4 linked regions of the Homo sapiens genome follow. The protein of the gene in region 3 purifies or fractionates together with the protein of the main gene of each other region. This does not show direct contact. Each region holds a gene or a part of one and is shown on either strand. Other genes may lie near its edges. The genes, in order: ZNF317, REXO4, PPAN and MRPS35.

Region 1 (7,441 bases), 970 kb from region 3:
TGTGACAGGCATTCAACATAAGAAACTGGAAAGAAACATCCCAAAAAGGAAGAAAATGATAACAATCAGAAAGTTATAAAATAGAAAACATATATATCATAAAGTGGTTCAATCAAGCCAGAAGTTCTTTAAGAAGAAAACTGACAACATTCTGATGGAATTTATTTTTGTAAAAAGCAACATATAATTATTATAAATAAAAAAGTGGATAACATTACAAATGCAGCAAGCATTAAAAATTTGAGTATGTTATGAACAACCCTGACTATACGATTTAAACCTCAGATGGAATAAATAAATTCCTAAAGAAATTTTACTCATCATAACAACACAGAAAACCTGAATGCCCCACAAACCTTAAAAGAACAGAAACAATAGCTTTAAAACTTTCCACAAAGAAAACTCCAGACCCAAATGGTTTTTCCAGGTACCACTCCCGTTCTAAGGAACAAAATATTCTATTCTTATGCAAAACATTCCAGAGTTTAGAAAACAGAACACTTCTCATCCCATTTTATGAGGCTGGCATAAATCTGAAACAGAAAAGGAACATTTCACTCAAGCATAGATCCAAAAACACCAAACAAAGTATTAGCAAACCGAAGCCAAAAGTAACAAATAGTAACATGTCCTTTCCAAATTATTTACCAATACAAATTCAATGTAACAAGAGAAAATCAATTGGTTTAATTTGCCACACTACAGGATAGAAAAAAAATTATATTATTCACTCATTAATTTGTTACACAGCAGTACTGAGTGCCATAATTTAAGGTACTAGAAATGTATCAATAAACAGATACAAAACTATCAATATAGATTTTGTATCAAACAGATACAAAATGTATCAATAAACAGATACATAATGGCAAAAAAAAAAAAAAAATCACTTGTTAAAAGCCTGCAGCAATTCACAAGAAAAACTCAAGTAGGAAAAGAGGGGAGCTTCCTTGACCTAATAAAAACTATTCGACAGAAAAGCCTTCGGCAGACACAAATGACAATTCCCTTTAAGATCAGAAAACAAACAGGCTTGCCTAGAGTGTGCCATCCAAACTCCAGTCAATGACAAGGGAAGTCCCCACCCAGTCCAGCACAAAAAACAAACAAACAAACAAACAAACAAAAAAGACAATTTATCGTCTGTATAAAATAAATATTTGTATTTTCCTTTTGAATTGTACACATTTTCCTTGTCTACGAAGAACATCCAACAAACTACACAAAAGTTAGACTTTTCTGAGCACCAAAAAACAAAGTTCCCAAGAATAAATATAACAAAAACAACCTAAATCCTTTTTGCAGGTACTTATAAAACTTTACTGAGCCGGACATCGTGGCTCTCTCCTGCAATCCCAGCACTTTGGGAGGCCAAGGCCGGTGGATCACCTGAGGTCAGGAGATCGAGACCAGCCTGGCCAACATGTTGAAACCCCATCTCCACTAAAAATACAAAATTTAGCTGGGTGTGGTGGTGGGTGCCTGTATTCCCAGCTACTCGGGAGGCTGAGGCAGGAGAACCGCTTGAACCAGGGAGACAGAGGTTGCAGTGAGCCGAGATTGTCATTGCACTCCAGTCTGGGCTACAAGGGTGAGACTCCATCTCAAAAAGGAAAAAACAACAACAACAACAAAAAACACTTTATTGAAAGGCATTAAAGAAGATGTAAATAAATGATGTAAATCAATTAACTGCAACTCAATGGCATAAAAACGACAATATTCCCAAAGTTCAAATATAGATTCACCACAACTTGAAAACAAAAGTCCAGTATGTGGAATTTGGTGAACTGACTAGAATTTAAGCCATGACATTCCTGAAAAAGAATGGCTAGGTGTAAGTACTTCATCTACAAGATATTTAGAAATCTCTAAATTACAAAGGTGTGCTTGAATCAATACAGAAAAAGATTGTTTCCAAAAATACTGAAGCGCCTGAGTTCATTCACAAATAATTACCAAAATTTAGGAAATATATTTTCTGGAAAAGATGTATACGCAGTCAAATCCACGGAGACAGTATTGGTGGGAGAGGAGGATGCAGTTTAGAAGAGGCACACAGCTTTCTGAGATTTAATAATCTCTTTCTTGGCCTGGTTTGTAAATTCGCTTTACTGTTGTCCTTTTAAGTGTGTGTAAGTCTGCGTGTGTGTGTAATCATACTTTTTTTGCATGTATGTCCTATTTTCCAGTGTTAAAATATGTGCATAGGAAAGGACACACCACAAAATAAGACGGTAAAATTCAATGGAAAATATTAATAATCACGATAAGTATAACTGGACTAACTCAAGTTAATTAACAAAATGTTGAACTGAATAGTAAATATACATATAGGCTATTTACAAGAGTCCACTAAAATTAAAATAAATAAAAAAGTGCAACCAGAAGGTCTTAAATTAAAAATATAAAAGGTACTCAAGGTAAGTGCTAATAAGAACACCAATGTGCTGACATTCACGAGATAAAATTGACTACAGCGCAGAAAGAAGGTGATTTCTCCTCGCGATGTCCAAATCCTGACGCCCCCCAATCTCCTGAACTGCCCCCAAACTCTTGAATTCACTTCAGCCGGGCTTTTCCGCCCCCACCAGAGACTTAGGGCTTTTCAGGATCAGGTGACCAATGCTTCTCTCATCACTAGCTGCAATGGTCCAATTTTATCCTTCGCGTCCCCAGCTTTTCATATCGCTGATCGCGAGATCTAAACGCACCCCTCGTCTGGATGCCTAGCTCTTTAGCCCCCGACCCTCGTACCCTCTTAGTCCTCACCGCCAGATAGGCCTCCCGTGACCCCTGGAACTGAGGGGGAGAAGGGTTAAGGAAAGCAGGGCTTACACGACTGGGAATAGGATCGGGGGAGCGGAGGTGACGGAAGCCGCCGCCGATGCGAAGAGAAGTTCATACGGGAGGTCCAGTCTGGCGTGGGGACACGAGGGGTCCCCAACAGGCCGAAAGAATTCGCCGCTGACCCCTCCTTGGCCCATGTGTCTCGGGGCAATCGACTCCAGAGAGTAATGGCTTCCGCTTCACTGCCGCCTTCCAATTCTCGCGGGACTTCATTGGCGGCGTCTAATACGGAAGCGGGGCGGAGAGGATGCTGGGAATTGTAGTTTTGAAGTTTGGATTGGCATGGCGGCCGTGCCCCGGTGGAATCTGACGGTCCAGCATATTTCTCCAATTTCTACTCAAGACTCAAATTTTCAACCACAACCCACAGCATTTTGTAGCCATCGTAGTGGTAAAGGTTGAATCAGGCAAGAATTGTCATCTACATGACACAACTGGGGGACATTTGCATGACGAGCAGAATATTTGAATTGCCTTAAATGCCTCTCTATAAACTGCTCGTATGTTGGAATGGAGAAAAAGTAATAGAAATTGTACAGCGAAGAAATTGGACAACATCTGGACCAGGTGATCAAATCAATATCACCAGTGAGGGTCAGATGGAGACCACGTGCCTCTGAATGACACCTTGGGAAGGGCGTAAAATCACCATCACCTGTGTGGTGTTCATCCTGCATATCTGCTATTTTGTATTTTTTGACCCACATCTTCCCATTTTCTTCCCCAACTGCCTCATTCTTTATTTCTGTGTATTTGAGCTGTCTCTCTTGATTAAAAAAAGTTCCTCATGTAAGTGACGTCATGCAATATTTTTCTTTTTGTGTCTGGCTTATTTCACTTAGCGTAATGTCCTCCAGGTCCACCCATCTTGTGATAAATGTCAGGACCTCCTTCTATTTCAAGGTTGAATAATATTCCGTTATATATATTATATGTTTTATACAATGGAATATATATTATATCATATTTATTATAATTATGTATTATGTGTATTATTACCGTATATTATATAATATATGCTAAAATAATATATGTATGTATGTTATATATATTATGGAATATATATTATATATAATATATATTATTTTAGCAGGAGGAGTCTGCATATACAAAATTCCAGAATCAGGCTGGGTACAGTGGCTCACACCTGTAATCTCAACACTTTAGGAAACCAAGGCTTCCCATGTAACCAGTAGGGGCAGAATTATATAGGCAGGAGAGACAGATGGTTAGTATTATCCAGGGCAGGTATTATAAAAGACAGAGAGAAGGAAATTTGAGGTTTTGGAAAATATATTATTGAGGGGATGGACCATGGTGCGTATATATATATATACACACACATATAAAATGTATGTATGGAATATATATGGATATAAGATATTCATATATAATATATAATCTATATTACATAACGTAATATATATTTCATAATACATAATATATACACCATAATATATAGCATATATACATATAATAATACATATAATATATAATATGTATTTCATATAGTATATTATATACATATATTACATATAATATATTACATGATATATAACATAATGGGAATATCTATTATGTAATAGGTATATATTTATATACAACATATTATATTAATATTTAATATAATATGAAATATATATCAATATTATATGATATTAATGTTGACATCATATATAAATACAAAAGAGATAGAATATTATTCAGACTACATAGCTGCTATTTTGTATTTCGTATTCATGTGAGCATCAATGGACATTCAGGTTGTTTCCGTAACTTGGATATTGTAAATAATGCTACAATGAAAATGAAAGTGCAGACATCGTTATGAGGTGATTATTTCATCTCTTTTAGGCATATATTCAAAAGAGGAATTGCTGGGTCATATAGTAGTTCTGTTGTAGATTTCTTTAAGAGCCTGAATACTGTTTTCCACAAAGGTTGTACCAGTCTGCATTCCCACCAACAATGTACTAGGGTTCACTTTGCTTGATGCCCTCGCCAACATTCATCTCTCATCTTTTTTTTCCTTTTTTTTTTTCTTTTTGCAATGGAGTTTCGTTCTTGTTTCCCAGGCTGGGGGGCAATGGTGAGATCTCAGCTACCGCAACCTCCGCCTCCCGGGATCAAGCGATTCTCCTGCCTCGGCCTCCCGAGTAGCTGGGCTTACAGGCATGCACCACCACGCCCAACTAATTTTGTCTTTTTAGTAGAGACGGGCTTTCTCCATGTTGGTCAGGCTGGTCTCGAACTCCCGACCTCAGGTGATCCGCCCGCCACGGCTTCCCAAAGTGCTGGGATTACCGGCTTGAACCACCGCGCCCGGCCTCTCCTATCTTTTTGATGATAGTTCTCCTTAAGGATGTGAGGTGATATCTCACAGTGGTTTTAATTTGCATTTCCCTGATGATTAGTGATGTAGAGCACCTTCTCATATACCTGCTGGCCTTTTTTATGCCTTCTTTGGAAAAACGTCTGTTCAGACCCTTTGCCCATTTTAAAATCAGGTTATTTGTTTTTCTGCTATTGATTTATAAGAGTTCTTTATAAATTTTGGATATTAACCCCTTATCAGATATGTGGTTTGCAAATATTTTTTCCCAGTCCGTGGATCGCCGATTCATTCTGTTGATTGTTTCCTTTGCTATGTAGAAGCTTTTTAATTTGATGTAGTCCCATTTGTCTACTAATTTTTGCTTTTGTAGTCTGATCTTTTGGTGTAATATCAAAAAAATATATATATATATATTTGGTCTTTTATCCATTTTGAGTTGATTTTTGTGTATGGCGTAAGATAAGGGTCAAATTTCCTTCTTTTGCATGTGGAAATCTAGTTTTCCTGGCAGCATTTACGGAAGAGGCTATCCTTTTCCCATTTTGTCCTCTTGGTGCCCTTATTGAAAATTAGTTCATCATATATGTTTGGATTTATTCCCAGGCTCTCTGTTCTGTTCCTTTAGTTTCTATTTTTATGCCAGTATCATGCCTTTTTTTTTTTTTTTTTTCTTGAGACAAGTCTTGCTCTGTCACCCAGGCTGCAGTGCACGGCTCACTGCAGCCTCGATCTCCCGGGCTCAAGTGATCCTCCTGCCTCAGCCCCCCAAGTATCTGGGACTACAGGTGCATGCCACAGCGCCTGTCTAATTTTTGTATTTTTCATAGAGACAGGGTTTCCCTATGTTTGCCCAGGCTGGTCTTGAACTCCTGGGCTCAAACAATCCACCTGCCTCATCCTCCCAAAATGCTGGGATTGCAAGCGTGAGCCACCACGCTGGGTCCCTTTTTTTTTGAGACTTAGTTTCACTTTTGTCGCCCAGGCTGGAGTGCAATGGTGCGATCTCGGCTCACTGCAACCTCCGCCTCCCGGCTTCAAACAATTCTCCTGCCTCAGCCTCCCGAGTAGCTGGGATTACAGGTATGAAGCCTGTAATTAGCCATCATGGCTGGCTAATTTTGTATTTTTAGTAGAGACAGGATTTCACCATGTTGGTCAGGCTGGTCTCGAACTCCTGACCTCAAGTGATCCACCCGCCTTGGCCTCCCAAAGTGTTGGGATTACAGGCGTGAGCCACGGCGCCAGGCACGTTTTTTTTTCTTTTTTTATTATTATACTTTAAGTTTTAGGGTACATGTGCACATTGTGCAGGTTAGTTACATACGTATACATGTGCCATGCTGGTGTGCTGCACCCACTAACTTGTCATCTAGCATTAGATATATCTCCCAATGCTATCCCTCCCCCCTCCCCCCACCCTACAACAGTCCCCAGAGTGTGATGTCCTTCCTGTGTCCATGTGATCTCATTGTTCAATTCCCACCTATGAGTGAGGCACGTTTTGATTCTTAACAAGGACAATTGTGCCACCTGTGGAGACGCCTTTGGTTTTACCACTACCCGGGATACTACTGACATCTAGTGGTTAGAGTATAGAATGCCCTACTCCCTCTAACAGAAATACCAGGTCCTGAATGTCAGTCGTGCCAATGATGAGAAACCCTTGCATAGAAAAGTAGGAGATGGCCGAGCGCGGTGGCTCACGCCTGTAATCCCAGCACTTTGGCCGGGGCGGGTGGACCATGAGGTCAGGAGTTCGAGATCAGCCTGGCCAACATGGTGAAACCCCGTCTCTACTAAAAATACAAAAATTAGCCGGGCGTGGTGGTGCGTGCCTGTAGTCCCAGCTACTCAGGAGGCTGAGGCCGGAGAATCTCTTGGACCCAAGAGGTAGAGGTTGCAGTGAGCGGAGATCGTGCCACTGCACTCCAGCCTGGGTGACAGAGACTCTGTATCAAAGAAAAAAAAAAAAAAAAGCAGGAGATACTGGCTGTAGATAAGAAGGCAGACATCTCATTGCTTGCAGAGTGAAAGAAGAAAGAACTGGTGATGTTGTTACTGGACTACTTTCGCACTAGTGTCAAGAAGGTGAGAAATCTCTCGAATCTAGGATAAGAGAAAAAATAAAGAAGGTGAGAAATCTTTCTCATGGTCGTTACTATTTCTCTCTGCAGTAAGTTGTAAAATCATTTGTTATTAAACAGGGAAGTTGTGGCCGGGCGCAGTGGCTCATGCCTGTAATCCCAGCACTTTGGG
Region 2 (7,037 bases), on a different chromosome or scaffold from region 3:
CACCCAAGCGACCTACAGTTTGCCTCTCAGTGGAGAGGTGCTCATGGCACTTAGGGTGGTAGCCACCAGCTGCCATTTATAGCATGATGGGCTGGTGATACACCCCTATCAGCCAATAAAAGGAGAGGGCCAGGGGAGGAGTCAGCATCCCCATCTCCCATCTTGAGGCCTCCCTGCTTATTTCAAGAGGGACAGCTCTGGCCAGGCATGGTGGTTCACACCTGTAATCTCAGCACTTAGGAGGCCAACGAGGGCAGATCACTTGAACCCAGGAGTTTGAGAATAGCCAGGGCAACACAGCAAGACCCTATCTCTAAAAAAATAAAAATAAAAAAATTAGCCAGGGGTGGTGGCATATGCCTGCAGTCCCAGCTACTTCAGAGGCTAAGGTGGAAGGATTGCCTGAGCCTGGGAGGTGGCAGTTACAGTGAGCCAAGATTATGCCATTGCACTCCAGCCTGGGTGACAGAGCAAGACCCTGTCTAAAAAAAAAAAAAAGGATGAAGAACGGCTCTGCCCTTGGCACCCTCTAGAGCAGATACGACAGTGGTACCAGGCCCTTAGTCAGTGACCCTGTTTCAGAGGTTAGAGTGGAAATAACTTGCCCTCCGTTGCAATCATTTTTAAGGTCAGCAATTAGCAGAACTCTATTTTTAAACATTCCTTCTAGTTTTAAAGGTTAAAAGAAAAAACAAAAACCCTTTAACCAACAAGTCAGCCACCAGTGACCAGAAACAATGAAGTGACCAGCAAAACAGAAATACAGTATCTTGAGTCACACTCATTCTAAGTACCTTTACTTGACTCTTGAAAGGTTTATATTTCTGTGTGTCCCGAATCTTCTTTTTTGGATGATCAAGAAATAGTACCTAGAAAAATAAAATATAATGATAATCATTTTCATTTTTGGTTTGTAGTAGCAGAACCCCCTCCCCCCGCCACCTTTTGCAAGTAACATCTTTGTGTGTGTGTGTGTGTGTGTGTGTGTGTGTGTGTGTGTGTGTGTGTGTGTGACGGAGTCTTGCTCTGTCACCCAGGCTGGAATGCAGTGGCTCAATCTTTGCTGACTGCAACCTCCGACCCCAGGTTTCAAGTGATTCTCCTGCCTCAGCCTCCCGAGTAGCTGGGATTACAAGTGCCCGCCACCATGCCTGGCTAATTTTTGTATTTTTTAGTAGAGACAGGGTTTTGCCATGTTGGCCAGGCTGGTCTCGAACTCCTGACCTCAGGTGATCCACCCGCCTCGGCCTCCCAAAGTGCTGGGATTACAGGTGTGAGCCAACGCGGCTGCCCTGCAAGTAACATCTTGTAGGGAATCCAAGTGTGTCACACACACATGGAAACAAGGCACTGATATGAATTTCAACTCCAGAAGGAAATTTATTGCACTGACTTAAGCTGATGCCCAACAGTCAGAGACAATAAAAACAAAATCTTGAAATCAAGGAAGTAGGAGAAAAACAGTCAACAGTTAACCAGCAACCAACTTATTCCTATATTATACTTGTATTTTGAGTTGGTTCTACACATCAGGAAGTTGCAAATAACACATTTTAACAGCTCATCTTGCAATCTTAGCATGCAATTTTTTGTTTTGTTTTGTTTTTTGATAGGATCTCACTCTGTCACCTGGGCTGCAGTGCTATAGGGTAATCATGGCTCACTGCAGCCTTAACCTCCTGGGCTCAACTGATCCTCCTACCCCAGTCTCCTGAGTAGCTGGGACAACAGGCACACGCCACCACACCTGGCTAATTTTAAAATTTTTTATAGAGATGGGGTCTCCCCTATGTTACTCAGGCTGGTCTCTAACTCCCGGCCTCAAGCAATCCTCCAGCCTCAGCCTCCCAAAAAGCTGCGATTACAGGCATAAGCCACTGTGTCTGGTCCTTAGCATCATCTTCAAGAAAGACTTGAACATGTGCTGCGCAAGGTGCCAGGGATGGAGTCAGAGTCAGGAGGGAAGGACGAGTCCCCACGGCAGCAGTCTCTGAGGGGGTACAGCAGGAGCACACAGAAGACCTTTCTGTGAGGACACTGCCCGGGGGGTTCTCACCTCAGTTTCACCCTCTGTAAACAAGCATGAACACCTCCAGCATCTTCAATGGATTCAAGGGATCTCTACAGTGCCGTCACGGGAGCACCATAGCAAAGGCTGCTGCCTGAACATTAGCATCTCTGTCACTTCCTTCTGAACGGCTTCAAGTTCCTCACCACACCCAAGTGCTTCAAGCCGGTGGGCAGAGGTGACAACTTAAGTGTCTCTCCCATCTAGCAGACTGGCCTCCCCGCTGTTCCCACTGTGTCCTTTAAACCAACATCCAGGCATTTGCCCATAAACTCAAAGTGACCCCCACCCTGTTCTCCTGTAAATACACACGTACTCGCTCTGCCTGACTCTTCATTCCTGCCTCGGGTGACCAGGAGATGGCAGGCTGCCCTCCCCACCCATGACGCCTTCCCTGCCCAGGGTCTGTATATGTCTTTGAACTTGTTTCCCACGGTGGTGGTGTCTGAATTTGCACTTTCCATCTGAAGAACCAGGGGCTGCCCCAGGCGGGATTTTCCTCGGGACGCCAGAAAGAAGGCAAAGGCAAGCTCCCAGGGCCAGGGTGATGGTTAGGCAAGCGTAACCTGAACATGGGCCACAGGGCATCTGCCAGGATAAACTTGTTTCCTGTGGAGGGACCCTGGTCACGGATGGGACAACTGGACATTAGGCCTTCCTCCAGGTAAAAGGGGTATCAGCACCTTCATTTCTCATTAGGGCGGGGTTGCCAGCTGCTCTGGTATGGGTACCCCAGTTTCGCTGGGGGCTCTCAAAACAAGAGCCTGGCATGGCTCCTAAAACACAGTAAGAACTCAGCACGCGGTATCTGATATTATTACCAAAGTATTCCCAACATAGAGCACAAACCCACACATTGTTAAAACTCCCCAACACAGCAAGGGCGTGAGTGTAACACCCACGGAGCAGGGGCAGGCTGAGTCCCCAGGAGAGAGCCCAGTACCTTTAGGTCATTATGCAGAGCGTGCCCCACTAGAATTCTGCCCTTCAGCATCTCTGCCACTTCCTTCTGAACAACTTCAAGCTCTTCTCCTGGAAAATCAACACAAAGAAGCGGTTTTTTGCAACACACACATCACCATCATTCTGTGAGGAGGCAGCCCCGCTCCTACCCCTGGTCAGACCTAAGACAAATGGTCAGGCCTGCAATGCCACTACGGAGGGTGACTCGAAGCCACCACATCCACCCACCCCCCTGGGAGAAGTGCCTTGTGGGCCCCTGGCAGGGGTGGCTGCGAGAACCACCTCTGAGGAGAGGAATAAAGTGCTCCACACAGTCTGCAAAGTCGGCTCATGGCTGGAGGAGAGCATATGTTGAGTGTAGGCACTGAGAAACTTTTAGAGCCGCCTGGCAGCGTGGTTCTGCCTATTCAACCTCATGATTTACTTGACAATTTCCCAAATGGAAATAAAAACAAAACTGCCCCCACAAAAATGGGTAGAGATGTGTTGCCCTAGGCCCTGGGCTCCAGAGGCAGCCTTGCCTGCTTCTGGGGACCACCCCACCACCAACCCCACTTGTACCCCCCGAACAGGGGTGATTAGACCAAGGGTGGCCCGAGCCAAGTGGGACCAGCTAATTTTTTAAAAATATTTTTTAGAAGGCCAGGTGCAGTGGGTCATGCCTGTAATTCCAGCACTTTGGGAGGCGGAGGCAGGCGGATCACCTGAGTTCGGGAGTTCAAGACCAGCCTGACCAATGTGGAGAAACCCTGTCTCTACTTAAAATACAAAATTAGTCGGGTGTGGTGGCATATGCCTGTAATCCCAGCTACTCGGGAGGCTGAGGCAGGAGAATCGCTTGAACCCAGGAGGCGGAGGTTGCAGTGAGCCCAGATTGTGCCATTGCACTTCAGCCTGGGCAACAAGAGCAAAACTCCATCTCAAAAAAAAATAATAATTTTTTTTAGAAATGAGGTCTCGCTATGTTGTCCAGGCTGGACTTGAACTCCTGGGTTCAAGCAATCCTCCCTCCTCAGCCTCCTGAGTAGCTGGGACTACAGGCATGAGCCACCGTGCCCAGCTACTGGCCTGGTCTTGAAGTCAGCGGACAGGAGGCAATGAAGTGCAAGGCATAAATGGGTGTAAAGCCGTCTAAGGATGCCTTTTGTATTTTAAAACCCATCGCCCCAAAAGGAGACAAGACGCATCAAAACCAGCTGCAGTGAGTGGTCTCAGACAGAAAAGGGAACAAAAGGGAGAAAACGAATCCAGTTACTACTTTCCCTTCTAAGTTCCTGAGCTGTGGATGACATACCCTGCTTGAGGTTCTCAGGCCGAATCCCACTGACCGCTGTCCTATAGTCCGTCACGGGCTCGGTTGGTTTGACGTACTTGTCATAAACGCACTTCCCATACTGGTTCACGATGGACACACGGGCGGCCATGCTCTCCTCCCCCTTAGGGCCCACGCCCACCATCTCACAGTCCAAGGCTAAGGCTCTTGTCAGGCTGAAGGGTAACCAAAGGCTGTAGTTTAATAAACACGGCAGGCCACAGGGCTCCAGGTCAGAGCCCCAGGGATCCATGGACTAAGTGTCAGCAGAGAAAAGCTCTCTGCCCCTCACTCATTTGCACCCACGTGACAAGCTCTGTGTGGTCCTGGTTCTTAGCAGGACCCTGGGAGGTGCTTGCCTCATTCACCTCAGGGAGAGGAAAGCATCCTCTTCCTTGAAGAAGCCCCGCCCTCCACGGCTAAGCATCCCCAGCAGACCCCACTCCCTGAGACCAGCGTACCCGCCGAAGGCCTGCTCTTTCACGAGGCTGAGGCTGACGCTGCCCTCGCTCTGACCCAACTGTTTCCTCGCTATCTTGGCCGCCTCTGGACCTATGGCAGCTTCGATATCCGCTGGGTCCACGTCGTCAAACCAGATGTCTTCCCTAAAAGGCAAAGATAACAGGCTGATCACCAGAAGACCCTAGTGCAACTGGTGGGGTGGGGCTGTGGGGCTGACTGTGCAGGTGAGTGGAGCGATGGCACAGCCTGCCTCTCCCACAGGCTGGCCCCAGACACCCCGACTGCTGGCCCTGCTGCTTCTGCTATTTTGATCATCTTGGCATTTTCCTTTTTTTTTTGAGATGGAGTCTCACTGGGTCACCCAACCTGGAGTGCAGTGGCATGATCTTGGCTCACTGCAACCTTTGCCTCCCAGGTTCAAGTGATTCTCTTGTCTCAGCCTCCCTAGTAGCTGGGATTTTACAGGCGCCCACTGCCACGCCTGGCTAATTTTTTGTATTTTCAGTAGATACGGGGTTTCGTCATGTTGGCCAGGCTGGTCTTGAACTCCTGACCTCAAGTGATCCACCTGCCTCGGCCTCCCAAAGAGCTGGGATTACAGGTGTGAGTCACAGCACCTGGCCTCATCTCTTTTCTTTTTAATTAGAAAATACACTCATTATTCAAGATTTAGGAACACAGACAAACACAAAGAATATAAAACAGAAACACATAACCCACCACCCAAGTGTAATGAGTGCTAACATTTTAATTATGAAGGTAACACGTTCATTATTGAACACTTAGGAAACAGACAGACAGAATGCCTGTAAGATGGAAACACAGAACCCCTTGCCCTCCGTACTAGGAAGCTCACACAGGCACGTAACACCTGCCTGGGGAATCTGTCTCTTGGGCTAAGGTTAAATGTCATTTCCTTAGAAAAGCCATTCCTGGCCCCACTGAATGGACACGTCCCTCTTGTTCCAGGCGCCCAATACCTTCTCCTCACTAGATTTATCCTGACCACACTTAATCAACAGCTGCAGTTTACAGTCTGTCTACTGCACTTGACAATAAGCCTCAAGAGGGAGGAGCAGGCCCACCTCACTGAACTCTATCCCAGACAGCCTGCCTAGCACAACACAGGGAGGCCCCCAAATGGCTCATTCCTCAGCCATCAGCGACTGTGTCCTGAACACCCAGGCAACATGAAGCCAGCTGTAACTTATGAACACGTCACCTCCAGCTGAACCATTCAGAGAAGGCCACTGACTCCCGGTCCACCCCACGTGGGTGGCCAGCACAGGGTTTATTCTTTTCACTTGTTTTTTTGAGAGTCTTGCTCCGTCACCCAGGCTGGAGGCAGTAGTGCAATCACAGCTCACTGCAGCCTCAACCTCCTGGGATCAAGTGATCCTCCCACCTTGGCCTCCCAAGGAGCTGGGATCACAGGCAACAGCCACCACACCTGGCTCCATCACAGGGTTGAAGTAATCACCAGGCACTGAGCCAAGAGTGCCAACCTCACAATCTCCTTATGATGCCACCATGACTACCACAAGGCACAGAGGACGTCAGAAACTTGCCCCAAACCACCCAACTGGCGAGAAGCAGGGACAGGCCTCATACTTGGGTCTTTCTGGCTTCAGCACGCTTTCCTTCCACACACGTGTACTGGCACCCACTAAATGCTGAGCTCTGCTCAACGCTCGGAAGAAGCAGGCCCTGCCTTATCATGCGCACACTCTAGGGGAAAACAAGTAACAGCGAGTAAACAAAGGAACAGACGACATCAGGGTAAAGTGATGGAGAGACTGCGGTGAGGCCACCAGCCTCCATAAGGAGACAGGCCTTGGTGAAGTCGCTGTGCCTCGGTTCTCAGTGGTGAGGTGGCCCATACTTACTCGGTGGGTGGGGCTGGGGCTGCCTCCTTAGCTTTCCGCTTCTTATGCTCGATGTCCCCTCGTTCTGGAACAATATCACCATTTGTCCTTTCCTTGGTTCCTTTCTTATTGTGCTCTGTTCCACTGGCCTTGGTGCGAGGTACTGGCGCCCTCCTGTCCATCTTGGAACCTGAAGGAACAGAGCCCCTGCTGGCCTCCTGGTCTTTTCCTGCCGGCATCTCCTCTCCCTTCACTTGAGGCGAGGTCTCTTTTTTGTTTTGCTGGATAATTTTGGGCTTCTTTTTGGAACCCATCTGAGAGATGACAAGAGGCTTTTCTGGGGCCTGAGATTTTTGTTTCAGCAGCC
Region 3 (3,188 bases):
TCCCCCATACCCTGCGCCACCTGATGACGGTGAGAAAAATCTCCCTCCTTCGGGAGGATGGGGGGGCCTGCTTACCCATTACTGGTGCCAGTGCTCACCACAGTGCCCAGGGCACAGCAGCACAGGGGCACTCACTCCTTGTGCACCCCACCCCTGCCTCTGCAGGCTGGGGACAGGCTTCTCCGGAGGCGCCTCCCTGCTCCCAACGCCAGCCTGCTTAAGGAGGAAGTGTCGTCTAGACGTGGCTTTTTTTTGGAGACAGGATTTCACTGTCACCGAGGCTGAGGTGCAGTGGTGCAATCACAGCTCAGTGCAGTCTCGACCTCCTGGGGTCAAGTGATCCCCCTGCCTCAGCCTCCCGAGTAGCTGGAATCACAGGCTCGCATCACCACACCCAGCCTTGACCTAGGCTTTTTTTTTTTGAGATGGAGTTTCGCTCATTGCCCAAGCTGGAGTGCAATGGTGCAATCTCGGCTCATGGCAACCTCCGCCTCCCGGGTTTAAGTGATTCTCTTGTCTCAGCCTCCCGAGTAGCTGGGATTACAGGCATGTGCCACCAGGCCCAGCTAATTTTTTTATTTTTAGTAGAGACGGGGTTTCTCCTTGTTGGTCAGGGTGGTCTCGAACCCCTGACCTCGTGTTCCACCCCCCTCGACCTCCCAAAGTGCTGGGATTACAGGCGTGAGCCACCGTGCCCAGCCCCAGACCTAGGTGTTTTACCAATACCCACTACCCCCACCTCCTGACAATCTGCAGACCCCCAGAGACAGCCAACATGCCTTCTCCTTACCCGAGACGTTGGCTGCCATGCTCCCGTGCCGATCCTCAGCCTGTGTCTGCTACCCAGTTCCCCAGCCCCTCCCCCAGTCACCAGTGGCTTAGTGGGCCCTGCCCCAGCCCCATCCCCAGTTACTGGCCCAGCCAGCAGAGCAGGCCAGCGTGCCTTTCCACCCACGTTTCCTTCCTCATTGTGCCACAACCCTCCTGAGGTTCAAGCTCATCTGCTGAAAGTGTGACCTGTCTGCTTGCACGGCTCTTTGGTGGGACTGGGGGGAGGGGCCACTCATGGCTGCTGCTGCCACCAATGAAACCAACCCCGTGCAGGGTAGGGGAGAGACCCAGCTTCCAGGAAGAAACCAGGTGGGAGGGACTCTCGGGTGTGGCCGGCCCAGGACTCTCTGGGTTGCTTTGTATGGCTCCAGAATCCCCCATCCCAAACGCTGACGTGGACCCCTGGCCAATTCAGTTCTTTACTGGAGTGGAAGGGCTGGGGACACAACTCCTTTATGAAAGGAAACCGAGGGCCACATCTCGGGCCCCAATCTGGGGCGTTCAATCCAGCCGCTGCTCCGGTGCGGCTTGGGCTCAGGCCACTCTCTTCCCTGGGCGGCCCCGGCCCCGGCCTCGCCCACCATCCCGGGAAGCCCCTCTGGGCCCCCGCCTGGCCTGGGCTCCCTGGGACTTGTCCTTGGTCTTGGGAAACTTCTGGTCACAAAGGCGACCCCTGCCTCGATCCATTTCCCACCGCTTCCGCTTCCGCCCTGGAGACTTGGCAAGCCGTTTCTGCTTGGCCTCGGGGAACAGGTCTGTGGGGAGAGACAGTGTCAGGGCCCCCAGAGACAAGGACAGGCTCTGGGTGCCCTGCTGCAGACCCCACTCCATACCCTCACTGGGCGCCTCGCCCACCGCCTGGCAGAAATACTCGATGTCATCATCTTCCTGTTCATCATCGTCCTCACCCAACTCCAGGCTCGCCGTCCTTGAAGGGATCCCAGAGGCCTCTTCATCACTACCCCCGACCCGTGCCTTCTTCATGCCCTCCAGGCTCTTCTTTCTGGAGGAGGGCGTGGGGGTCAACATAGCCGCCCATCCCAGGGACCCCCCCTTGGCCCTGCCCTTCCCAGCTCTGCCTGGACCTGTGGGCCTCCCGCTGCTCCTGCTTGCGCTGCACATTCTGGGCCTGCTGGGCCTGCCTCTGCGCCTTCAGCCGCAGCTTCTTCTCCTTGGCTTCCAGGATGGCCTGCAGCTCCTCCTCCGTCTTGCTCACTGAGCCAAGAGACGCGGGTCACCAAGATCCGGGTGCAGCTCCACACCCATGACCCCCCACCCCCGGCGGCCCCGGCCTCACCAAAACTGTGGAACATCACTTTGCCCTCCCCGACGCCCTCCTGGACCTTGATGAGCTGCAGTGTCATCCGCGGGCCGATCTGAGGGGACGAGGAAGAAGCGTCAGCCCACCGTTGGGACTGGTGGAGCCCGGGGGTCCCCCTGCCCTGGGCCTCACCTCGGTGAGCCGCACTGCACTCTGCTGGGCCCGCATGTTGCCACGGCCAGCGACAGCCTGAGGCAGCTCTGTGATGTTGTGGTCGCCGTCAGGCTCTGCCTCGCTCTCCGACAGCCCCGCGCCCCTGTGTGTAGGACATAACAGGGCTCAGTGGGGGAGCTCAGGCTCCCGGTCCTGTTCTGGGGTCCCCGGGCCGCAGTGGCCTCCCGCCCTATGCCCTCCTCACGTGGCCAGCAGCTCGCTGATGTCCTGCAGGCGGCTCATGTTGGGGAACTTCTCCTGGAGCAGCTTCTTCATCCCGCGACTCGCGCCCACAGGAACAACTTTGATGCTACTGCAGGAACATGAGTGGACGGCAAGGGGGTGGTCAGGGGGCACGTGATGGGGCTGGCGGTGCCCATCTCACCCTTCCCACAGTGCGTCAGGGCGTTTACTTTGGACAGAGCAATCACAGCGTCTCAGCAGAAGTGCTGTCATCAGCCGCATGTGGAGGCCCCCACCCGGCACCCCCTCGTCTCCCATCCTGCTGGGACACTCACTAGTGGCGGAAGTCCAGCTCCTGGGAGTCGGGGTTGTAGTCGATGAGGAGGCAGCGCTTGATGGTGTTCAGGTTCACCTGGAAGGGGAGGAAGAGAGCATAGTCCAGTAGACTCATGGCAAAGTTTGGGGAAGTGGGGGCTTTGGGGGATACACACACTGTTCGTGGACTGTGGCACTGGCTAGAAATGCTGCTTCCAGCTCGCACCTGCAGTTTTAGCTACTCCAGAGGCTGAAGTGGTGGGACTGCCTGAGCCCAGGAGTTCAAAACCAGCCTGGGCAACACGGCGAGTCTCCATGTCTACAAAAAGTAGATGGAAAAATGAGTTGGATGTGGTGGTGCACGCCTGTAGTCTCAGCTACTCGG
Region 4 (7,037 bases), on a different chromosome or scaffold from region 3:
CTACATGCATGGAGGTAAAGGCAAATAACATTTTTTAACTCATGGTTCTGTGTATGCTTTTATAATTATGTATATATTCCAATTTAAGTTCTGATTGATAGTTATGATTGATTAGATTTATTTAGGAGTTGGTACCTTTGGATAAAGTCTTAATATACTCATGCTGATTTAAAGGTGTTGTATATTACATGCTCAGTATACTTACTAAGGCTTTTCAGGAAAGAATATGAAACCTAGAAACACTTCACAAGTATCCTGATTATGTTGGGAAGGAGATGTGGAATAGTAAACATAATTATGATTAAATTTGAGCTTTTGAAAGGGCCTTCCGTTTAAAAATGTAAGGAAGACTATATAAAGAGGTCCTAAAACATAGGAATAATAACCTTACTCTTGAAATGAGGGAGGAAAAATCTGTTGCCTCTTAATAGGTCTTCTACTTTAGGACATTGGGATGCTTTTCTATCCCTTTAGAGTGTGTGTTTCTCTATGCATTTGTGCCTGGAATTAGATTAAAACTGATCACTTCCAAATTTGTGTCCCAGGCTGGGCATGGTGCCTCACACCTGTAATGCTCGCACTTTGGGAGTCTGAGGTGGGTGGATTGCTTGAGCTCAGGAGTTCAAGACCAGCCTGAGCAATGTGGTGAAACCCCATCTCTACAAAAAACACAAAAAATTAGCCGGGTGTGGTGGCATGTGCCTGTAGTCCCGGCTACTCGGGGGCCTGAGGCAGGAGGATTGGAACCCAGGAGATTGAGGCGGCAGTGAGCTCAGATCACGCCATTGCACTCCAGCCGGGGTAACAAAGTGAGATCCTGTCTCAAACAATAAAAAAAAATAAAATAAAATAACAAGTTTTTGTCCCGTTTGCCACAAATCATGTATTAGTATTTGATCATCTGTAAAGACAGTTAACAAATGGCATTGCACTGTGAAAAATTCCATGTTTCTTCTTTTTAAATGTGACAGGGCGTGGTAGCTCATGCTTTTAATTCCACAGTACAGCACTTTGAGAGGCCAAGGAAAAAGGATTGCTTGATCCCAGGAGTTTGAGACCATCCTGAGCAACATAGTGAGATCATGTCTCTACAAAAATATTAAAAAATTAGCTGGGGTGTGATGGCGCATGCCTGTGGTCCCAGCTACTCTGTAGGCTGAGGTGGACGACAGAGTGAGACCCTGTCGCAAAAAAACATAAAAATAAAAAAGTTTAAAAAAATTAAATGAAAGGCTTTTATACAGCACATTCGGAAGAGTGGCATTATATTTTATAGTATTTAAATGAGTGTCTTAATCTTTCCTTAATTATCCCTTTACACTTGCTGCTGGCCTCCGGATTCAGATTGCGTCTTCCGTATAACTCAAAGGCTTTTCAAGTACTTCTTCTCAGTTTTCTTTCAAAGTAGGTCAGTTCAGATTTTATATCTAACTTGCAAATGGAAAATCTGAAGCATGGGAAAGTTAGGTAATTTACCAAAACTTTAATAATCAGTGGCAGAAGTTAAATACAAACTAAGGTCTTCCAAAGTCTCATCTATTGCTCTACCTATCAGATGAGTAAAGGCTAATAGGAGTCTATTATGTGTTTTCCATTTGGCTGTCTTTTTTTAGACATATAATTTAGGTAATTTAATTTTAAAACTGTAATTATCATTTGATGATTGAAATGACTTATTCACATTTTTTTTTTTAAGTAAAAGAAAAAAGAGTCAGTGCAAACCCAAGAGCTCACAAAATTCCCCAAACTAGTCTCTCTTATAAAGTGCTTGGAAGTGATGCATCTTATAGTGCAGGATATTGGAGTAAGTTCATGATGGGAATGAAATTCAGCCTCAACAATCTTGCTCTGTTCATATTTTTTCAATGTTACAATGATGTTAATTGCAAAGATACTTCTTTCCCCTCAAAACGACCGGGTATTGATTTTTTAAACAGTGTTCAAGGAATGGAGTGAACTATGTTTAATTTGTTAACATGTTTAGTCCCAGATATCAGAGAGTCTTTGTAATCCAGAGTGACATTTTGCAGACTCTGATTTTAAAGCCTAAATGAGAGCAAAATATTGTTCCTATTATAAGAAAATCGTTAGCCCAAGGAAATGTTATTGGCAAAATAGTTCTCACTGCCCCTTAGACTGTCACCTAGAAGAGCTCCCACATCTGCCTGTGATTATGACCAGCCTTTTCTGCAGTTGTGCTTTTTTGGAGGAAGCATGGATCTGTGCAGTCTAATATGTTTGACCCAAGAAACCAGTTACTTTTAGCTGTTCTTAGAGTGAGGCTGTTTAAGAAATGAGATTTCCATTGTGGACAGCCTTATAGTGCCAGAAGTTTTCATCTCAAGCTGAAAGTTCTCTGCCATGCTAACTTGATTGAAACAGGACAAGATGAAATCAGCTCTGATACCTGGGGGAAGCTGGGAGCTACCTCTTTTCCTTTAAGTTTTTTTTTTTTTCCCATTAGGGGCCTGAGTTTATGCTTCTGTGTTATGAAGATAGAGAGGCATGTTCACAGTGCTTGGAGCTCCTGTTGTGGCCTAGGTCTCAGACCCAATCCCACTTCCTCTCTATGCTCTCTTGCCCAAATATGAGGACAAGGCTTTCTTCTTTCCATTTAACCCCATTGGCACATAGAAGTCACATAGAAAAAATATCAGTTCTTATAAGAATCCATTTAAGGGCTTAGGCATTTGTACCTGTTTGAGTTGAGGTTCTATTCAGCCAAATTTCTAGACGACTGTTGACTCCATCTCAGTTTCTTCTTAGGGCTTTTTGAGAGCTTTCAATTCCTTTCAGCTGATCTTTAGTAACCTTTAGTAATTAATACTATCTGTTACTTTTTTGAAAACAGTAATGCTGTGGGCACTATGAACTGTTTGCTTTTAGTTGGTACAGAGGAAGTAAACTGTCCAGTAACAGATATGTGCAAAGCTTATAATAAGCTTCCATCAAGGCACAGTTCCCTTTTAACTGAAAATACCATTACCACCAAACCTGAAATATCCAAAGAATTCCCTAATTAAATTGCCTAATTTAGGATGTACCTGATAGGAAAAGGGATAAGGGATGATGCTATATATGTAAAGTGCAGAAGAGAATCTGTTCTTTCATGTAACTTGGTGATGCTCTCAGTAATTTGGTATTGTCTAGTAGTATGCATTACAATGAGAATTTACTTGCAAAAGTGTAATTGAAATTATTTCTTTTATTCTCAGATTTTTGCACTGAGTGGCCAGCCGCACTGGACAGTGACGAGAAATGTGAGAAGCATTTTCCAATTGAAATTGACAGCACTGATTATGTTTCATCAGGACCATCTGTTCGGAACCCCAGAGCACGAGTAGTAGTCTTAAGAGTAAGAGTTTTTTTCATTTTTTTTTTTTAAATAAGAATCATTCTAATACATTATTTAAAGATGTCTTTGGTGGCTGGCACAGTGGCTCATGCCTGTAATCCCAGCACTTTGGGAGGCCAAGGTGGGAGAATTGCTTGAGCCCAGGAATTTGACGCCAGCCTGGGCAACATAGCAAGAACCTATCTCTAAAAATAAAGAAAGAAATTGATATGTGTGATTATAAAACTGTAATATTTTTCACAGAAATTTTGGAAAATACAAGTTTCAAATTATACACCAGGCATGGTGGCTCCTGCCTGTAATCCCAGCACTTTGGGAGGCCGAGTCAGGCGGATCACCTGAGGTCAGGAGTTCAAGACCAGCCTGGCCAACATGGTGAAACCCCGTCTCTACTAAAAATACAAAAATTAGCTGGGCGTGGTGGTGGGCACCTGTAATCCCATCTACTCCGGAGGCTGAGGCAGGAGAATTGCTTGAACCCGGGAGGCAGAGGTTGCAGTGAGCTGAGATCGCTCCACTGCACTCCAACCTGGGTGACAGAGCGAGATTCCATCTCGGAAAAAAAAAAAATTACAAAATTGCCCGTAAATCTACTATTTGTAACCACTGTTAACTATAGTAGCTCATTTTAGTATATAGTCACAGCCTGCCTTTGTGTATATTAATGGGATGATACTGTATGTGTTCAGCAGTCTCTTAACAAGAATTAAACATTTCCCAATAATATTAAACATTCTTTAATTTAATTTGAATTTTTTTGAGATGAGATCTGACAGGCAGAGAGTAGTGGCACTAACATAGCTCAATGTGGCCTCCAATTTCTGGGTTCAATTGATTGTCCTGCCTCAGCCTCCAAAGTGGCTGGGACTACAGGTGTGAGACACTGCCCAGCCCATTTTCTTAAATTTTTTGTAGATACAGGATCTCACTTTGTTGCCCAGCTTTTCTTGAACTCCTGGCTCAAGTGATCTTCCCACTTCCGCCTCCCAAAGCACTGGAATTACAGGTGTGAGCCACTGCACCCAATCTAATTTAATTTTAATGGCTGCATAGAATAACGTATAAATGAGAGATTGTTATGTACCAAGACAGTGTTTGAATCTGGGGGTGTAATGTTGATCACTTCAAACTTAGCCTTTTTTCTGAGACTGAAGTGTGATATATAAATAATTTCATAATACAGGGCTACCATAATTTATCTGTATTATGGAACCTTTAGGCTTTTTAATGGTTTTCTTTATTAGAAAAATATTTTAATGAATATTCTTAGGTATTAATATTTGTATGTATTTCTAATGATGTTCCTAAGATAACTTCCTGAAAGGAGAACTATGAGGTCAAAGGATATAGCTCTTGAAGTTTGTTGATATATATTATAAAATTCCTGCAGGAAATGTAAAAAAATATAATCCCAGCAGAATGTGAGAAGGCCTGCTTTCCTGTGCTCTCACCAACCTACATATTACCTGTCAACTTGATAGGTAAAAAATTTGTCTTATATTTAAAATTTGTATGTCTTTGAATACTAGTGAGGTTGAGGATTTATTCCTTTGCAAAACATGTATTTTTTGTCATTTGCTCATTTTGGTGGTGTATTGATTCCTTGTATACCTTTTTTTTTTTTTTTTTTTTTTTTTGAGACAGGGTCTTACCCTGTCACCCAGGCTGAAGTGCAGTGGCGCGATCTTGGCTCACTGCAGTCTCTTCCATCCGGGCTCAAGTGATTCTCCCATCTCAGCCTCCTGAGCAGTAGCTGGAACTGCAGGAGTGTGCCACCATGCCTGGCCAATTTTTTTGAATTTTTGTAGAGACAGGGTTTTGCCATGATGCCCAGGCTGGTCTCAAATTCCTGGACTCAGGCGATCTGCCTGCCTTGGGCTCCCAAAGTGCTGGGATTACAGATGTGAGCCACCACTACAGGGCCGTTGTTTCTTTTTAATAATGGCTTTATTGAGACATAGTTCACTTGCTATAGAATTCCCCCCTTAACCATCCTCAAGCCCCTTTTAGCCACTAATCTACTTTTTGTCTCTGGATTTACCTATTCTTGATGTGTTACAGAAATGGAACCATGCAATATGTTTTCTTTCACTTAGTGTAATGTTTTCAATAGGTTTCATCTGTTGTAGCATGTATTATTTTATCATTTCTTTTTATTGCCAAATATTTTATTTTATGAATATACCACATTTTATTTATCCATTCATTAATTGGTGGACATTTGGGTTGTGTCTACTTTTTGGATGAATAATGCTGTTGAACATTCACATACAGGTTTTTGTGTAGATATGTGTTTTCCATTCTCTTGGGTATATACCTAGCAGTGGAATGACTGAGTTGCATGGCACCTCCATATTTAACATTTTGAGGAACTGCCAAACTGTTTTTGAAAAACAATTTCAAAGTGGCTTCACTATTTTACAATTTCACCAGCAAGTTTGAGGCTTTCTATTTCTCCACATCCTCACTAATGGTTATTACCTGTCCTTTAGTTTTAGCCATTCTGATAGGTATGAAAGTATCATTGTAGTTTTGATTTGTGTCTCCCTAATAACCATCTTTTCATGTGCTTGTTGACTATTTGTATATGTTTGGAGAAATGTCTGTTCATATCCTTTGCCTGTTTTTTAATTGGGTTGTTTATCTTTCGATTGTTGAGTTATAAGTGTATTTTATATATTCTGGACACCAGTCCCAGTCCCTTCTCAGATATATGATTTGTAAACATTTTCTTCCATTCTTTGGGTTGTCCTCTTACTTTCTTGATGATGTCCTTTTTTTTTTTTTTTTTTGAGACGGAGTCTCACTCTGTCACCCAGGCTGGAGTGCAGTGGCTCGATCTCAGCTCACTGCAAGCTCCGCCTCCTGGGTTCACAGCATTCTCCTGCCTCAGCCTCCCGAGTAGCTAGAACTACAGGCACCCGCCACCACGCCTGGCTAATTTTTTGTATTTTTAGTAGAGATGGGGTTTTCACCGTGTTAGCCAGGATGGTCTCGATCTCCTGACCTTGTGATCTGCCTGCCTCAGCCTCCCAAAATGCTGGGATTAGAGGCGTGAGCCTTTTAAGCACAGAAGTTTTAATTTTGATGAAGTCCAATTTATGTAAGTCATGTGCTGCATAATGATGTTGTGGTCAGTGATAAACACATACACAACAGTGGTCCCAAGAGATTATAATACTGTATTTTCACTGCACTTTTTCTATGTTTAGATATGTTTAAATACACAAGTACAATTTTGTTACAGTTGTTACAGTATTTAACAGTAACATGCTACACAGGTTTGTAGCCAAGGAGCAATTGACTATACCATGTAGTCTAGGTGTGTAGTAGGCTGTACCACCTAGGATTGTGTAAATACATAATGATGTTTGTACATGACAAAATCACCTAGCCATGTCTTTGTCAAAAAATATTGTTAAGTGGCGTATGACAGTATTTTTCCTTTTGTTTCTTGTGCTTTTGGTGTCATATGTAAGAAATCATTGTCTTATTCAAGGTCATAAAAGATTCACTCTTGTGTTTCCTCCTAAAAGTTTTATAGTTTTAGCTCTTACATTTAGATCTATGACCTATTGTTTGTTAATTATCATACAGTTGTTCCTCAGTATCTGTTTGGGATTGGTTCCAGGAACGCTTGTAAATTCATAGATCTGTGGATGCCTAAGTCCCTGATATAAAA

Evidence for each region.
Region 1: the proteins of PPAN (region 3) and ZNF317 purify together in Homo sapiens (affinity purification with mass spectrometry, with the first as the bait; 2 studies listed by BioGRID). This does not show direct contact.
Region 2: the proteins of PPAN (region 3) and REXO4 purify together in Homo sapiens (affinity purification with mass spectrometry, with the first as the bait; 3 studies listed by BioGRID). This does not show direct contact.
Region 4: the proteins of PPAN (region 3) and MRPS35 purify together in Homo sapiens (affinity purification with mass spectrometry, with the first as the bait; 2 studies listed by BioGRID). This does not show direct contact.

What each region holds. Positions count from the first base shown.
Region 1 is NC_000019.10:9,135,990-9,143,430, reverse strand, and holds the start of ZNF317 (zinc finger protein 317), read right to left. Parts: upstream 3,035-7,441; 5' UTR 2,839-3,034; intron 1-2,838. UniProt on the Homo sapiens protein: May function as a transcription factor. May play an important role in erythroid maturation and lymphoid proliferation.
Region 2 is NC_000009.12:133,407,974-133,415,010, forward strand, and holds part of REXO4 (RNA exonuclease 4), read right to left. Parts: coding exon 6,692-7,037; intron 6,672-6,691; exon of another isoform or gene 6,364-6,671; intron 4,949-6,363; coding exon 4,805-4,948; intron 4,520-4,804; coding exon 4,326-4,519; intron 3,101-4,325; coding exon 3,012-3,100; intron 870-3,011; coding exon 795-869; intron 1-794.
Region 3 is NC_000019.10:10,109,343-10,112,530, reverse strand, and holds the end of PPAN (suppressor of SWI4 1 homolog), read right to left. Parts: intron 2,901-3,188; coding exon 2,824-2,900; intron 2,783-2,823; exon of another isoform or gene 2,691-2,782; intron 2,619-2,690; coding exon 2,511-2,618; intron 2,409-2,510; coding exon 2,285-2,408; intron 2,208-2,284; coding exon 2,129-2,207; intron 2,047-2,128; coding exon 1,917-2,046; intron 1,835-1,916; coding exon 1,665-1,834; intron 1,587-1,664; coding exon 1,366-1,586; 3' UTR 810-1,365; coding exon of another isoform or gene 791-809; 3' UTR 519-790; downstream 1-518. Other genes in the region: P2RY11 (P2Y purinoceptor 11), read right to left, coding at 791-809; PPAN-P2RY11 protein, read right to left, coding at 1,509-1,586, 1,665-1,834, 1,917-2,046, 2,129-2,207, 2,285-2,408, 2,511-2,618, 2,824-2,900. UniProt on the Homo sapiens protein: May have a role in cell growth.
Region 4 is NC_000012.12:27,720,832-27,727,868, forward strand, and holds part of MRPS35 (small ribosomal subunit protein mS35 isoform 1 precursor), read left to right. Parts: intron 1-3,215; coding exon 3,216-3,355; intron 3,356-4,745; coding exon of another isoform or gene 4,746-4,754; exon of another isoform or gene 4,755-7,037.